4 linked regions of the Homo sapiens genome follow. The protein of the gene in region 1 purifies or fractionates together with the protein of each later gene. This does not show direct contact. Each region holds a gene or a part of one and is shown in the gene's direction. Other genes may lie near its edges.

Region 1 (5,530 bases):
TCGTGATCTCCCGCCTTGGACTCCCAAAGTGCTGGGATTACAGGAGTGGGCCACCACGCCCAGCCTTTTTTTTGTATTTTTAGTAGAGATGGGGCTATTTTGGCCAGGCTGGTCTGGAACTCTTGGGCTCAAGTGATCTGCCCACCTCGGCCTCCCAAAGTGCTGGGATTATAGATGTGAGCCACCACACTTGGCCTAAACTTGCTTATCCTCTGGTTTATTCACCTAATAATTTGTGCCTGAGAATAGCACTAAAGTTATTTTCAGTGGTCAATAACTCCTGATAATGTGCTGTCAGAGATTAGAGATTAACTCCCTAAACTTTTTTTTTTAATGAAGAGAGTCTTGTGTATTCATTGTGATTACACTTATCAGACAAATCTCAGGTCTGATTGCGAGTTTTGTTAAAATATTTACTGAATTGCATATTCATATAATTAACGTATGAATCATATCTTTGCTCTATTCTTTATGTTTGAAATTTCTCTTTTCTTTCTTTTTTTTTTGATATGGAGTCTCCCTCTGTCACCCAAGCTGGAGTGCAGTGGTGCAATCTTGGCTCACTGCAACCTCCACCTCCTGGGTTCAAGCGATTCTCCTGCCTCAGTCTCCCTCGTAGCTGGGATTACAGGCATGTGCCACCATGCCTGGCTAATTTTTGTATTTTTAGTAAACACAGAGTTTCACCCTGTTGGCCAGGCTGGTCACGAAATCTTGACCTCAAATGATCCACCTGCCTTGGGCTCCCAAAGTGCTGGGATTATAGGCATTAGCCACCACGCCTGCCCTGAAATTCCTTTAGTTTGCTATTTTTAAACTGTAGTTTAACTGGCAATAGGCCTTTTATCTCAGATATTTGTAAAGAATTATTTTCTTGAAGTGTTTCAGAGAAATATTATTACCAAGGCAAAATTGACTTAACACAAAAGTATCTGTCCACATTATATATTTTTTATTTTAAAGATATCTTATTCTTGAAATAGAAAAGGAGATTTTGTAATGGTATTAATCAGGGGCCTCTAGCAACTCAGCAGTGATGGCTTCCTATCTGCATTAAAGTAAGTCAGGTAAATACTTGGAGGTGTGTTGTAACCTATAGGCCTGACTTTTCAGCTTACTCTAACTTGATTTTTATTTTAGGTTTGGCCTTTGCTTCAGGTTTAGCAGCCACTGTAACTATTACCCATCTTTTAAAAGCAGGAGACCAAATTATTTGTATGGATGATGTGTATGGAGGTAGGTGACCCCTCTCATTTATATTCTGTAAACTTGTATTTTACAGATAATAAAGTGAGCCCTGAATTAATATTAACAATGTTGCCAGTATTTTTGATTATTTATTATAGTTTACAGGTGTGACAGGTACCTCTATGCTCTCTCAGACTTGGGAAAAGAGGAGCATAAACACTTAGGGTCCATGTTCTGGAACTGCTTATAAGAGAGATTATTTATTTATTTATTTGTTTATTTTTAGATAGGATCTCACTCTGTCACCCGGGTTGGAGTGGAGTGGTACGATCTCAGCTCACTGCAGTCTCCGCCTCCTGGGTTCAAATGGTTCTCATGCCCTAGCCTCCTGAATAGCTGGGACCCCAGGCGCATGCCACCACACCTGACTAATTTTTGTATTTTTTGTAGAGACGGGGTTTCGTTGTGTTGGTCAGGCTGGTCTGGAACTCCTGAGCTCAAGTGATCCTCCCTCTCCAGCCTCCCAAAGTTTTGGAATTACGGGCGCGAGCCGCCTCACCTGGCCAGAGATTATTTACTAAGAATAGTATTTAAGGTGCTAGAATGAATACGTAGCACTTGATCAACTTGCAGACATATTCTGCTCTAGAGAAGATAAGGTTTAGAGAGACAGTGTTCTCCTGTAACTTAATTTTTACCTGTAATAAAGATGAAATACAACTCAGGTTACTCTCAAGAGTTCAACCCCACACATCCCCTTTTGCTTTTTATTTTTTGTTTGGCACCAGGGAAACTTTCAAAAATTTGTTGAGAGATATGGGCCTCTTTTCCCAAAAAATGTTCTTAAGACTACACTGAGTGATTAGCATTTTAATTTTAGGGGTCTCATGGATTGAACCGCTGAAGCCCATCTATGGCTCTAAATTTAAGAACTTCCCATTAACTCTTCATTTAGCATTAGGTATATCTCCTAATGCTATCCCTCCCCCCTCCCCCCACCCCACAACAGTCCCTGGTGTGTGATGTTCCCCTTCCTGTGTCCATGTGTTCTCATTGTTCAATTCCCACCTATGAGTAAGAACATGTGGTGTTTGGTTTTTTGTCCTTGTGATAGTTTGCTGAGAATGATAGTTTCCAGCTTCATCCCTGTCCCTACAAAGGACATGAACTCATCCTTTTTTATGGCTGCATAGTATTCCATGTGTATATGTGCCACATTTTCTTAATCCAGTCTATCACTGTTGGACATTTGGGTTGGTTCCAAGTCTTTGCTATTGCGAATAGTGCCGCAATAAACATACATGTGCATGTGTCTTTATAGCAGCATGATTTATAATCCTTTGGGTATATACCCAGTAATGGGATGGCTGGGTCAAATGGTATTTCTAGTTCTAGATCCCTGAGGAATCACCACACTGACTTCTACAATGGTTGAACTAGTTTACAGTCCCACCAACAGTGTAAAAGTGTTCCTATTTCTCCACAACCTCTCCAGCACCTGTTGTTTCCTGACTTTTTAATGATCGCCATTCTAACTGGTGTGAGATGGTATCTCACTGTGGTTTTGATTTGCATTTCTCTGATGGCCAGTGATGATAAGCATATACCTAACGCTAAATGATGAGTTAATGGGTGTAGCACACCAACATGGCACATGTATACATATGTAACAAACCTGCATGTTGTGCACATGTACCCTAAAACTTAAAGTATAATAAAAAAAATTTAAGAACTTCCATTCCAAAGAAATTAAATGTTAGCTATTTAAAGTGGTGAATGTGGAGAAGACAGGCTTGCCCTTGCCTTTAAGCCCACTGATTTTTGTATTTAAAACAAAAGCAAGGAATTTTGTGAATATACATATACATATATTCCAGATGCTTCCAAATAATTAAAATGTGATTTCTAGAATATTATCATTTTATCTATTTCCTATCTGAACAAAAAGTTAAATCACTAAGTCCTTTAAAACAGCAGTTCCCAACCTTTTTGGCACCAGGGACCGGCGTGTTTTTTTTTTTTTTTTTGAGGTGGAGTCTTGCTCTGTTGCCAGGCTGGAGTGCAGTGGCACGATCTCGGCTCACTGCAACCTCCGCTTCCCGGGTTCAAGCGATTCTCCTGTCTCAGCCTCCCGAGTAGCTGGGATTACAGGCATGTGCCACCACGCCTGGCTAACTTTGTGTTTTTAGTAGAGCCAGGGTTTCTCCTTGTTGGTCAGGCTGGTCTCAAACTCCCGACCTTAGGTGATCCACCTGCCTCGGCCTCCCAAAGTGCTAGGATTACAGATGTGAGTCACTCGTGCCCGGCCTCAGGGACTGGTTTTGTAGAATACAATTTTTCCAGGGACAGGGGGATGGTTCCAGGATGAAACTGTTCCACCTCAGATCATCAGGCACTATTTAGATTCTCATAAGGAGCATGCAATCTAGATCCCTCGAAAGTTAGATTCTCATAAGGAGTGCACAACCTAGATCCTTCCCATGAGCAATTCACAGTAGGTTTCCTCCTGTGAGAATCTGATGCTGCCGCTGATTTGACAGGAGACTGAGCTCAGGGAGTCATATTGCTTACCCGCTGCTCACCTCCTGCTGTGTAGCTGGATTCCTAACAGGCCACAAACCTGTACCTGTCTGTGGCCTGGGTTGGGGACCCCTGCTTTAAAGGAAGGGACTTACTCTTAGTAATCATTTTATCCCTCAGAAATTTGCACAATGTTTCGTATTTTATCTTAGTTTCTTATATTAGCTTGTTGAGTTGAAATTATAGAAATCTGAAACCTTTAGATACTTTTATAATGCAATATAAAAGTCTCATGGCAAACATAGGTATAAAATCCTGAAAATTGTTGATTTTAAAGAACTTTTTACATTATTTTTCAATTTTATATTACCTAGGGTCAGTCTACATACCATCAAAAGTCTAGTTTCTCATTAATGACAGAATATTCTTTTGTTGTTGTTGTTGTTATTGAGTATCAATATCAATTTTTTCTTTAAGTTTTTATGTGTAAAAATCAAATCTAGGTGTATTTATAAAAAATTATTTTAAGTCAAATGATTTACCTTGTTTCACTGTAAAAATCTGGTAGTTTGATTTATATTGTCTCATTTTATCGATTAAAACTTTCAGAACTACATAACAAAAAGATCAAAAAAGTACAAAGAATAGTAACCAATTCTTTTCCATTACAAAGTATATTGAAATTTATTTTGAACCTTTCATTGACATTGATTCATTTAGTTTAGAGTTGAGAACTAGGTAGAAATTGTTTGAAAAGATATGATGTTTCAGGAAGCATGTCACTTAGTGGAGATTGGATGTTTTGAAAAACATTATTTGCTTCATGCTACTTTTGGATCTCAAGTGTGTTTTATTTGACTCTTGAGCCTTTAGAGAACAAACCTTATTATTCTTTACTATATCAGATAGCCAAACTATTTAACCAAACTAGAATTGCTTTTAGTTGCATTTTCCTTGGTGACTGAGAGTTCCATATATTTTGTAAGTGTTTATACATAGAAGGAATGAATGTTTCTTAATGCAATGTTCTTTTCATTTTATCTGATTCCCTTCTGTCTCAGGTACAAACAGGTACTTCAGGCAAGTGGCATCTGAATTTGGATTAAAGATTTCTTTTGTTGATTGTTCCAAAATCAAATTACTAGAGGCAGCAATTACACCAGAAACCAAGGTAACTCAGCTCATTTTCAGTTTTGCCTGTTTTTCCTTCGATGTTTTGTTTTCATCATTTCTGTTTACTAGAGGATATAATTTAATGTGAATAACAAATTTTATTTTATGCCATTGGAAACATCAACAAAATTAAGATAGACTGTCATCTCCGGGGTGTTATAGCATAATGGTAGTACATGATTTCTGGAGTAGAATTCAAATTGTGATTCTGTTATCTTAGTTAGTATATTATCTTGGGCAAATTATTTAACCAAAGTCTCAGTTTCTTCATTTGCAAAATGGAGATAATTATACCGGTTTTATAGAAACGGGAGTGTGAGAATCAAATGAGATAATGAATATGAAATGCTTAGTATAGTTCCTGGATACATGGTAATTGTTAAAAAAATTTCTATGCAGGAGCACCTAATTTTTAACTGCATAGCCAAAAGAGTATTGGTAACAGAAGTCATCACAGAGATTGGACTATAGAAAAAGAAGCCTGCCAAACCCCCAAACTCGAAGCACAGTGGCTTTGCCGGGCTGTAAGGGATGCTGCCCAGATACTAGTTAGATGTGGAGAATAGGCCACAAGCAATCTTTAGCTTCCATCCTGGGAAATTTGTATGCCACCGGAAGGTGTTTTGTGTCTGAGTGAATGGCATATGTG
Region 2 (3,238 bases), on another chromosome or scaffold:
GAGGCATAACCTAACTGTTTACTTCTTCCAGGCAGGAGCTAACATGATTGTGTCTGGCAGTGCTATTATGAGGAGTGAAGACCCCAGATCTGTGATCAATCTATTAAGAAATGTTTGCTCAGAAGCTGCTCAGAAACGTTCTCTTGATCGGTGAAACCATAAGGAGCCCAGTGTTCCTGTTCATGAAATCTCCCTTTTACTGGAAAACAGGAATATTGACTACCAAATCACAATGCAATTGAAGCCGTACTGCTTTTTTGAGCAGTTATTCATTCCAGTGATTAAAACTGATTGTGCAGAATATTCTAAGAGGTCAGAAATTGGTGTGTATAACTACATTTTTAGTGATGCAATTTATTGATTAGTGAGTAAGATACTGTTTTTATTGAGAGATTTGATTTTTATAAAGTAAAAATACGGCTGCATTAGGGTTACAAACAGAAAAGTGTCTTAATGTCTAAGGAGGGCATATTAGCTACACTACAAAAACAAATTTTGTCTGTACTTCTGAAAAGAATTTTGTTGTTTCTCAGCTGTTTTCCAAAAGCAAAGGAAGTCTTTATGGTTTTTTTCTATTTCATGTTATTGTGATTTGTTTATAAGTTTGGGTGGGGTGCATACCATATTCTTGGTTCTTAAAATCTATCACTTTTCACCTTACACTTGATGTGTGAAAACTATAAAAACAATGTGTGAAACCCAGGGGTTCTAAAATACAAGCATAGATTTTATCAGGGTGTTTTGTCAAAGCAGGTTATTCAGTGATTCCTCCCCACCATTCTTAAGAACGTTAAATAATGCTGTTGTGTTAGCTCTGAGTAGAAAGGAAAAAGTAAAACCTCTGTTTGGAGGTAATATTGGGTTGAATTCTGACTGCCCCTTTCTAGCTGGACCTTTAACAAATCACCCAATCTTTTTTGTGTTTCTCTAAAGTCATTTATACATTAAATGTAATTATAGCAACTGTGGGGTTCTGTTGAGAATTAAGAGCTAACACTATATATGTAAAGTTTCCAGTACTAGTCCCAGAATTTAGAATATGCTCAACACAAAGTAAACAGCATTATATAAGTTTATATTTTTGTGAGTTATAAAGTACTTTGATATATTCTCATTAAATCTGTAAATCACCTCTATAAGTAAGTGGTAATAATAAAGCAGATATTTTTGTCCCCATTTAAAAAATGAAGAAATTAATGCTTAATAGGGTGGTACCCTGGAAAGGATCTGGGAAGTGGTAGAATTTCTGGTCTGTACTTTTACAAATGGAGCCCTTGGGAGGTGGGTTAGGTAAAAGAAGCTTTTTACTTAACGTTGTCTTATTTCCAGTCTAATTTTACGCTGTAGCAGAACCAGATGGCTGAGAAAATTCTGGAACTATGGATCTTGACCCCAAGGATATATTATTTTATTCCAAGAAAGATCAGGTAGGCGAAAAGATGACAGGATACAGAGTCAATCCATAAACTAAATATTTATAACTGTTCTGAATTATACAGAGTCTAAAAATATGTGTCAGCTACTTCATTCCTGTAAATACTCTTGCTGTGTTATAAATATGGCAAGAAATAAACATGACCAATATCAATAGACTTCTTGAGGCTACTATAAGTTTTGAGAAATAAGGTTCAAAAAATAAGAATGCTAACACTTAAGCACAGACTAGAGCTTGCTTGGGTTTCTTCCTGCATTACAAGGTAAAAATTTGTTAATGTTTGTTTTTATTCAGCTTGGGAAAGCTTTGTGCCATGAATACGTCGCATTTAATAACAAGCAACACACGGCATATAGAAATAACTTTAATTAAAAAACTTACATAGAAGATTATAATATCAGACGTGACAAAGATTTGAGTTTATTTGCCTGGACAACTTGGGTTTGTCTGGCTTTTGTTTTCTTTTTCTTTAAAAATAAATGTACAGTAAAACTACAAGCAAAAGTTTGTCAGTATTGAATTGAATTTTTTACCCCTTAAAAGGACTAGTATAATTTCCAATCTCTAACAAAAACTTAGTGTCAAATCTCACAGATAAGGCCAAATGGCCAATATTTTCAGTTATGTGGGTAGTACAACTTGAGTAACCTTTTTTACATGACAAAAAGTGAGTTATATAAATTGTCCTCAACTTTCACATAGGAAAAAAATGGTTTAATAGCTTCAAAAGGAATTTTCTTTCATGTATACTCTTCAGTATCCAATATTGAAGCTTTGTTCTTTGAAAAATTTTAATTTCCAATCTAGGATGCAAGCAAGAATATATGTTTATTTGAATAGAGTAAGCTATGGCAAAGAATGACCAAATTAGCTAGAAATAGAAATCAGCCAGAATTAACTAATTTCTTGCTAATCTAGAAATACAATCATCTTTTTTTTTTTTTTCAAATTTTATACTGATAGGGCTTTACTGTTTGTGGCTCATTTTAAAACTGGTGTCTTCTCTTCATGAGACACATTAATTGGTAAAACTCAAATTGAGTTTTCAAAGATGTGATAGTATTAAAGTGCACCAATATTTGACTCAAATTTGCTTGCTTTATTTTGTTAGGAGTAAACAGAAAGTAGCCTGTGTTTAGTCCCAAAGATAGCAGTGATTTTGAATAAAGGAGTTTTGTGTTGCCTGGATATATGAATTTCTGTAAATAACTTCTGTTGGTTAAACATGTTAAAACAACAACAACAACAACAAAAAACTTCTGTCTCTATATTCAGGACGTTCAGATGTCTTTTATTAGTGGAAACCTGTGTTTTATCTATTCTGCAGCTTACATTTCATAGGGTAGTTCATACATGCATTTCCAAGGGGAGTGGGTCATTGCCAGTGTTTTAAAAACTACATAGGGGTGTGTGTGTGTGTGTATGTTTATTTTATACACACATATTTGTATATTCTAATATATTACTAAGGCAATTTTAATGAATTACCATGTATATAAAAAAATAGCTGTCACTTGGCACACAGGTTTGTATGTATGTGTATATATATATGTATGTATGTATGGTGTGGGTACATAGTCTTAAAAATTACCCAGTAATGTGATTTGACATCAAGTTGCAGCAATTAATATCTTGGTGTTTGTAAGTAAGTTGCATGATAAACACAAATGACTACCACTTGTCTGTAGATGAAAATCTGGTTACCCTTATGGTTCCAGAAGGAAAAACAGACTTATCTTGCCTGTTTCATAAACAGCATAAAAGATTAATACATGCAGAACATGCTCTTATTCTGGAGGGGAT
Region 3 (3,615 bases), on another chromosome or scaffold:
CCCCGGGAGGTTCCCCAATCCCTCTCCCTCTTTGTTCACTGGCCGGGCCTCCGTGTGGAAAGGGCTATTTTTAGCCCTCGCTTTTTTTGGTTAATGGGCTTTTCGCGGCTTCTCTCTTTGAAGGGGCTATTTCAGGAGCAGACATCAGTGTCTGCATTTGGACTCCTTGGCTCGAGGTGCAGGAAAAGGTGATGGGGATGAGCTACTCGAGGGGCATCTGTGTCCCTGGACTGTGCCGGGCCCCTCCCTTGCCCCTGCTGGGTTCTGGGGCCAGGGAGGGACACATGACACCACCCTGCCAGAGCCTGTGGGAGGCGTCGGCAGAGGTGAACCACAGACTTGGATTTGGGGTCCTGGGGTTTGCGCGAGCAGGAATGTCCTCGCTTCTGGGACCTGGAACTGGAGTAGGAATGTCCATGTTTTGACCTCAGGGAGCCACTGAAATGGGCACTTGTGACAGGTTGGAATTGAACAGTGGCTGATTAGTTTCCTCCATTTTGTAGCAAGAGCCATCAGCGTCCACTGTCCCACCCACTCATCTGGGCTTGGGTGATTCGGGCATTTGGGGTGAGCTCTTTTCTCTTAGTTCTTAACTCATTCGTCAGAAGGACCCAGGGGTCAGCCAGGCCCAGCCATCTCCCTGGCCCACTGCACTTCAAGGAAGCTCAGGCTGGCTTGGAGGAGCCAGTGCGAAGTCAGCGGCAAGGCGAGGCTGTGCTGGCCAAGGAAGCGGAGTTCGGCAGCGAGAGAACTCGATGTGCTGGTCAGAGGTCTAGGATTCGAGCTGTGGTTATGTCATGGTCAAGGTTGTGTGGCCTCATCTGGAAGGAGTAGTGGTGCATACACCCCTGTCCACCCCCCGCCCAACAGGGGGTCTAGAAGTGCTTTGCCTCAGGCCCTCCCACCACTGCCTTCACTGCAGCCGGCTCCTTCCTGCAGCTCTCTCGGGAACTGCCCTGTGAGGCCCTTTGACACAGGGAATGTGGACCCTATGGACTGACATGGACAAGGGACCGTGGGCCATGTTGACACAGATAGGAGGTGGACCCCATCGGCTAACCCCGACGGGAACAGGCCCTCAGTGCATGACGGCTCCCTCATGGTGGGTAACAGCAGAAGGGGGGATGCAAATGGGCCTGCGGAGTTAGGGATCTGACCTCTGGGATGACTCTGGGCTGGAGCACCCCCAGGCTTGCTGAGCAGCTGCCCAAGGCCCAGGAGCCAGCGCAGCTGAGACGAGAGCTCTGGACAGGAAACTGGAGACCAGATTCGTGCAGGTGATGTGGCTTTGAGTTACCCGCTGCTCCAGGCCTGGTGTTCTCCTGTGAAGAATTTGCCCGCAGGCTCTCCATGGCCCCTCGGGGGGTAAAGCGTCTCTGGAGGGCCCTGGAGCCCCATCTGGAAAGTTGGTTTTCACTCTCAGCAGCTGAGTGGATCGGGCCTTCTGGGGAAACTGCTTTCCCCAACTTCACATACCTAGAAGTGCTAGAAAACTTAGAACACAGACCATTTAAGCAAAGAAGACCAGCCTTAGAACTAGTGAAAAAGGTACAAAAGGAACTAAAGAAGCAAGATGCAGAACTGCGCTTAAACACAAGGAAGGGTGACCTCTAGCACCATAGCCAGAGACGACCGTCCAGTCCTGTGTTCCCCGTTCCATCTCCTAGTGAGCCCTGGGCCCGCCTGGGTACTGCACGCCTTGTAGTTTGGCACTGCCTTGCCTGGCCAAGCCTTGCAGCACCCAGGTGCGGGGGGCAGGCAAAGGGCTCGCCAGCCCCATCGCTCATGAGCTGATCACAGACCTGAGCCCAAGTTCAGACTGAGCCAGCCTGGTGCTTCCATCCCTGTCCTCTTGGGCGGTGACCACAACCTACAGAGGACGAGCTCTTCAGTCATAGAACGGAATGCAAGCACCATGACAGCACTCCCTGAAATGAGGCAGGGAGGACAATCTGCTCATCCACTGGGATGGAAACGTGACTGTCGTCGCCCTCAGTAGCTCCCGAGGAGCACTGGGACTCCCCTTGTCAGAATGTGTGATTTCTCCGGCTTTCATCTAAGTTAAAACACGGGTCAATGAGGTGGGAGATCCTGGTTCAGGTGCAGGGCCAGGGCCTGCTGGGCCTGTGTCCAGCCTGACCCCAGCCGTGAGCAGGTCTTGGCAGCACCCTGAGGAGGGCTTACCTGAGGCAAGCAAGTTTGGGTTGTTGGCTGGAGGAAATGGTTTAATCTTTGAAGTGCAGGAAGCCCAGGGTTGCTTTTGTGCCACAGGTCTGGGGTCGCATCACTCTTGGGCCTAGAGAGATTTCTGGGGCGGGGAGTGGCCTCTCTACGAGAACTGCCTGCCCTGGGGACATTGCCAGACTGAACGGTGTCTGTATCTTCTGCTGACTCTGACGGACTTTGTGGGGACATCGATTTCCTTGAGTGTGGCCCTTGGGACCCCCAGGCACCTGATTCCTCTTTCTGGGCCTATGTTTCCTCATTGGTGAAATGGGCACAGCTCACCTTGGTGGGTTATTACATGAGTGTCAGAGGCAGCATTGATGACATGTGTTAGTGTGCCGCAGCTGCCATAACAAAGTTTGTTAAGCCACAGATTGGGTGCCTTAAACAATGGAAATTTATTCTCTGGAAGTCAGAAGTCTGTAGTCAAGGTGTGGGCAGGGACGCACTCCGAGTCCTTCCTTGTCTTTCCCAGATACTGACAGCCCTGGGGGTTACTTTTTGTGAGCAGAACTCCCATCTCTGCCTCCAGCTTCACCCCAACTCTGTATCTGTGTCCAGATTTCCCTCTTAAAAGGACACCAAGTCCTGCTGGATTTACAGCCTGCCCTAATGACCTCATTTTAACTGGACTGCATCTGCAAAGACCCTGTTTCTGAATAAGGTCTCATTGGGTCCCAGGGTTGGGACTTCAGCATGTCTTTTGGAGAGGCACAATTCAACTGAAAACATTACACAATCAAACACAGGCAGGTCCCCCACACAGGTAGCTCATGCTTTAAAATTAAGTCCGTGATTTACTTAGAGCGCGGGGCAGCTTATCCGCCTTGGGGTTGAATTGCTTTTCCTGAAGGTTAGTGTTCGTACCTGCTGAGCAGCGAGCCCTTCCTGTGCCAAGAGAGTTGTTAGCACTGGATGTGCATTTGCCGGGTTAGCGCCGCCTGCAGGTGGGCAGCAAGAGGGCAGGGCAGGTGTTGGCAGCTTTACAACTGCTTATTTAAGGATCAGTCTCTGATACAAACTCTTGTTGACTGCGGAAAGAATGCATTCATTTCCTTATTCGAGTAACAGAGTCGCCCCTGGAAGTCATGTCATTTCCTTTTAGTCGCTCAGGCTCTTGTTCTTGATGAAGGTCATAATCATTAACTTTGTTTAAAAGTTAATTATTGGCCAGGCGCAGTGACTTACTCCTGTAATCCCAGCACTTTGGGAGGCCAAAGCGGGGAAACATGAGGTCAGGATACTGAGACCATCCTGGCTAACAAAGGGAAACCCCATCTCTACTAAAAATACAGAAATTAGCCAGGCGTGGTGGCGGGCACCTGTCGTCCCAGCTACTCGGGAGGCTGAGGCAGGAGAATGGCGTGAACCCGGGAGGCGGAGCTTGTA
Region 4 (3,615 bases), on another chromosome or scaffold:
GTCCCAGCCACTCGGGAGGCTGAGGCAGGAGAATGGCGTGAACCCGGGAGGCAGAGCTTGCGGTGAGCCGAGATCACACAGCTGCACTCCAGCCTGGGCGACAGAGCGAGACTCTGTCTCAAAAAAAAAAAAAAAATAATAATAATAATAAGGCACTGGCTTTTAAAAGCATGTGCCTTCCTTGAATGTCACAGTAGTAGAGAATTAAAAAAATCAATTTTAAAAAAACACCAAAAACATGTGTGTGACTGAAAGTGTCAGCTACCGTTTTGTCTGGTGACTAATGCAAGTATCATGGCTATGCCTAACTTCAAATGGAGGAGGAAAGTACCATTCTCCCATGTGTCCAAAAAGGGAGAGTTACCACAGCATGCTTTCTGGTCATCAACGATTCAGCTTCATCAAACAATCCAAAAGTCTCCTCTGAGTGATGCTAAGTATTCTAAACATCAGAGAGGTGATGCTTATAAGTAAGCTGTCAACCATACCCAATATACAATTATGGAAAAGGAATAGGATAATCAGAGCAAACACTCATTCAGAAGAGGAAGCAGTGCAAGACAACAGTTTTTGATCTAGAGCCATTCTGAAATCCAAATAAGTAGCTGTCTCAAGGATCCTCAGCTCAGGGTAGAGAGACTTTTGTGATTGCTTCCTTCTGGTCTAGGAAAAAGGTTTCCCAATCCAAGGTTCTTTATGGCTGTGCTTCGACCGCCAATGATACTCTTCTTTCCTAAGATAATTTTTCTTTTTTTTTCTTTTATCTTTTGAGAGAGGGTCTCACTTTCTTGGTCATACCAGAATGCAGTGCTGCTCTCACAGCTCACTGCAGCCTTGGCCTCCCATGCTCAAGCAATTCTCTTACTGGGACGACAGGCGCGTGACACCATGTCTGACTAATTTAAAATTTTTGTTTTAGAGCTGGAGTCTCACTATATTGCCCCAGGCTGGTCTCAAACTCCTGAGCTCAGTTCAAAATGCTAGGATTACAGGCATGAGCCACTCCACCTGGCTAATTTTTCTTTTCTTTCTTTTTTTTTAAAGACAGAATCTTGCTGTGTCACCCAGGCGTGAAGTGCAGTGGTATATGATCACAGCTCACTGCAACCTCTGTGCCCTGGGCTCAAGCAATCCTCCCACCTCAGCCTTCCAAGTAGCTGGGAACACAGGCGCATACCGCCACACCCAGCTATTTTTTTGTATTTTTAGTAGAGATGAGGTCTCTCCACATTGCCCAGGCCGGTCTCTAACTCCTGAGCTCAAGCAATCCGCCTGCCTTGGCCTCCCAAAGTGCAGGGATTACAGGTGTGAGCCACTGTGCCTGGCATAATTTTTCATATTTGTAATTTTTAGCCTGCATAATTTCACATCAAGAAAGTAAGACATTTAATTAACCACTTCATTACTTTTGGACATTGAGCTTGGCTGCAGGTTTTATGGTCACTGTCATGAAAGCAGCCTTAAATATTTATATAAACAGTGTTTCAAAATCATTTACATTATCTCCCTATTATGATTTGTTAAAGCTGGAAGGATTGTGTAGCTCACTTAAGTTCCGCTCCCTCGTTTCACAGACAAGGAATCTGATTTTGAGTAATATTTCTGCAGTTACGTGGCTTGTAAGTGGCACAGCTAGGCCTTGCGCCCAGGCAGTCTGGCACCAGAGTCTGCTCTTGACCACTGTACTCTTATGCGTCTCTGCTGAATTGAGCCTTAGTTAGCTAAGATACTGCCACTTCAAAGAGTGTTTTTAAAATTGGAATGCTTTAGTAACTTTCAATGTTGAGCATTTTTCTGTATGAAAATGTGTTATCCAATGATGTTTTTTCCTTAGTTTGTAGTCTATCATCTGGAAAATTTGGGACATTACTTAGTGGTTCATGGGACACCACTGCTAAAGTCTGGCTGAATGACAAGTGCATGATGACCTTGCAGGTACAGTAGTTCTGTGTAAATATTCTAAAGAATAATTAAGTTGAATGATTCTGTGGCAACTTAAATTGATACTCATTTTACTCACAGGGTCATACAGCTGCAGTGTGGGCGGTAAAGATCTTACCTGAACAGGGCTTAATGTTGACTGGATCAGCAGACAAGACTGTTAAACTGTGGAAGGCTGGAAGATGTGAGAGGACTTTTTCAGGTAAGATCAGGGTAGACAAGTTTTATAATATCATTGCTTTTTATTTGCTCAGATTTTTTTTCTCAGAAGTTTACAAGCATGAAAATATTTGAAAAACATTAGTATATTTAAGCTATTAATTTGAGTTAATGTAATTTTTCTGATGAGTTAATATCTAATACATTTAAAAAGATAATGAAACCTCTCATAAAACAGCCAAATGTAGACTGATAAATAGCTGTCTGATAAGCTATATATAATATGCATATGTGCTTCTGCATATATGTATGTAATTTTTGGTATATAGTTATATTTTTGGTTGTCATTTTAATACTTTTAGCCTGAAACTTCTAAACATAAGCCTTACTGATGGTCAGTCAGCAGTGTTATCTTCATATATGGAAGAAATCATTATTAGTGTCTTTATATTGAAGCACATTGTTTATAACGAATTTCAAGCTTTGTTTATGTTGTGGTTTATGGTGAGTATTCTTTTTAAACCCCAGCTATTAAATAATGCCAATACTGATGCATCTGCTATCTAATAGTAATATCATTGATTTATTTGTAGGGTACTTAAGTATTTACTGTTAATTTTAATTGGTGTTGTTTTTCCTTTTTGAATTTTTTCCTTAAAAGTTGGTAACTACCCTAGATAATATGCAAGAAGTCCCTTTGTACAGATAAAAGTATCTTTTGGCTGGGTGCAGTGACTCACAACTGTAATCCCAGCCTTTCGGGAGGCTGAGGTGGGTGGATCACTTGGGGCCATGAGTTCGAGATCAGCCTGGCCAACATGGTGAAACCCTGTCTCTATTAGAAATACAAAAAAATTCGCCAGGAGTGGTGATGCACACCTGTAATCCCAGCTATTCGGGAGGCTGAGGCACAAGAATCTCTTGAACCCTGGAGGCACAGGTTGCAGTGAGCAGAGGTAGTGCCAGTGCACTCCAGCTTGGGCCACAAAGTGAGACTCCATCTCAAAAAAAAAAAGAAAAACAAAAAAAGTATCTTTTGATGGAAAGTGGATGATGACTAAACATCCTTCTGTTTCTGCTTCAGTATATAGTCTATATATATGTATCAAGTCATTATTAATCTGTGATAGCTACTCTTAAGTCAACAGATACTGAACATAGGAAATCTGACTTCACAAGCTTCAGAGAATGTTTTGTTCTTAAATTTATGGGCTACTCTTTGTTATATATTTCTTTTATATTTGAATATTATATATTTTATAAATTACTCTTGTTGGGGAAGAAAAATTAAAAATGAATTTTCAGGTGAAAACAAATTATTGGGGTCAAAATACTATTTCTGGAGGTTTTTGGAGAAGGTAGGATGAATGTAAAATAACTTCTGAAGACTGGTGATAAAAAAATATTGCTAAACCTTAAATACAAATTTTGGTTATCAGGCTTTCAACAAAAAAAAAGATTTCTCTAACTTGAAAATTAATTTTTACTACTCACTGATATGTTTTATAATGTTAG

What was found. The genes of interacting proteins can lie anywhere in the genome.
Region 2: the proteins of CTH (region 1) and RPE fractionate together in Homo sapiens (co-fractionation; one large-scale study listed by BioGRID). This does not show direct contact.
Region 3: the proteins of CTH (region 1) and WDR1 fractionate together in Homo sapiens (co-fractionation; one large-scale study listed by BioGRID). This does not show direct contact.
Region 4: the proteins of CTH (region 1) and PLAA fractionate together in Homo sapiens (co-fractionation; one large-scale study listed by BioGRID). This does not show direct contact.

The regions. Positions count from the first base shown.
Region 1 is NC_000001.11:70,416,797-70,422,326, forward strand, and holds part of CTH (cystathionine gamma-lyase), read left to right. Parts: intron 1-1,140; coding exon 1,141-1,236; intron 1,237-4,769; coding exon 4,770-4,879; intron 4,880-5,530. UniProt on the Homo sapiens protein: Catalyzes the last step in the trans-sulfuration pathway from L-methionine to L-cysteine in a pyridoxal-5'-phosphate (PLP)-dependent manner, which consists on cleaving the L,L-cystathionine molecule into L-cysteine, ammonia and 2-oxobutanoate.
Region 2 is NC_000002.12:210,019,638-210,022,875, forward strand, and holds the end of RPE (ribulose-phosphate 3-epimerase), read left to right. Parts: intron 1-31; coding exon 32-154; 3' UTR 155-2,623; downstream 2,624-3,238. UniProt on the Homo sapiens protein: Catalyzes the reversible epimerization of D-ribulose 5-phosphate to D-xylulose 5-phosphate.
Region 3 is NC_000004.12:10,089,185-10,092,799, reverse strand, and holds part of WDR1 (WD repeat-containing protein 1), read left to right. Parts: intron 1-3,615.
Region 4 is NC_000009.12:26,926,628-26,930,242, reverse strand, and holds part of PLAA (phospholipase A-2-activating protein), read left to right. Parts: intron 1-1,834; coding exon 1,835-1,935; intron 1,936-2,022; coding exon 2,023-2,143; intron 2,144-3,615. UniProt on the Homo sapiens protein: Plays a role in protein ubiquitination, sorting and degradation through its association with VCP. Involved in ubiquitin-mediated membrane proteins trafficking to late endosomes in an ESCRT-dependent manner, and hence plays a role in synaptic vesicle recycling.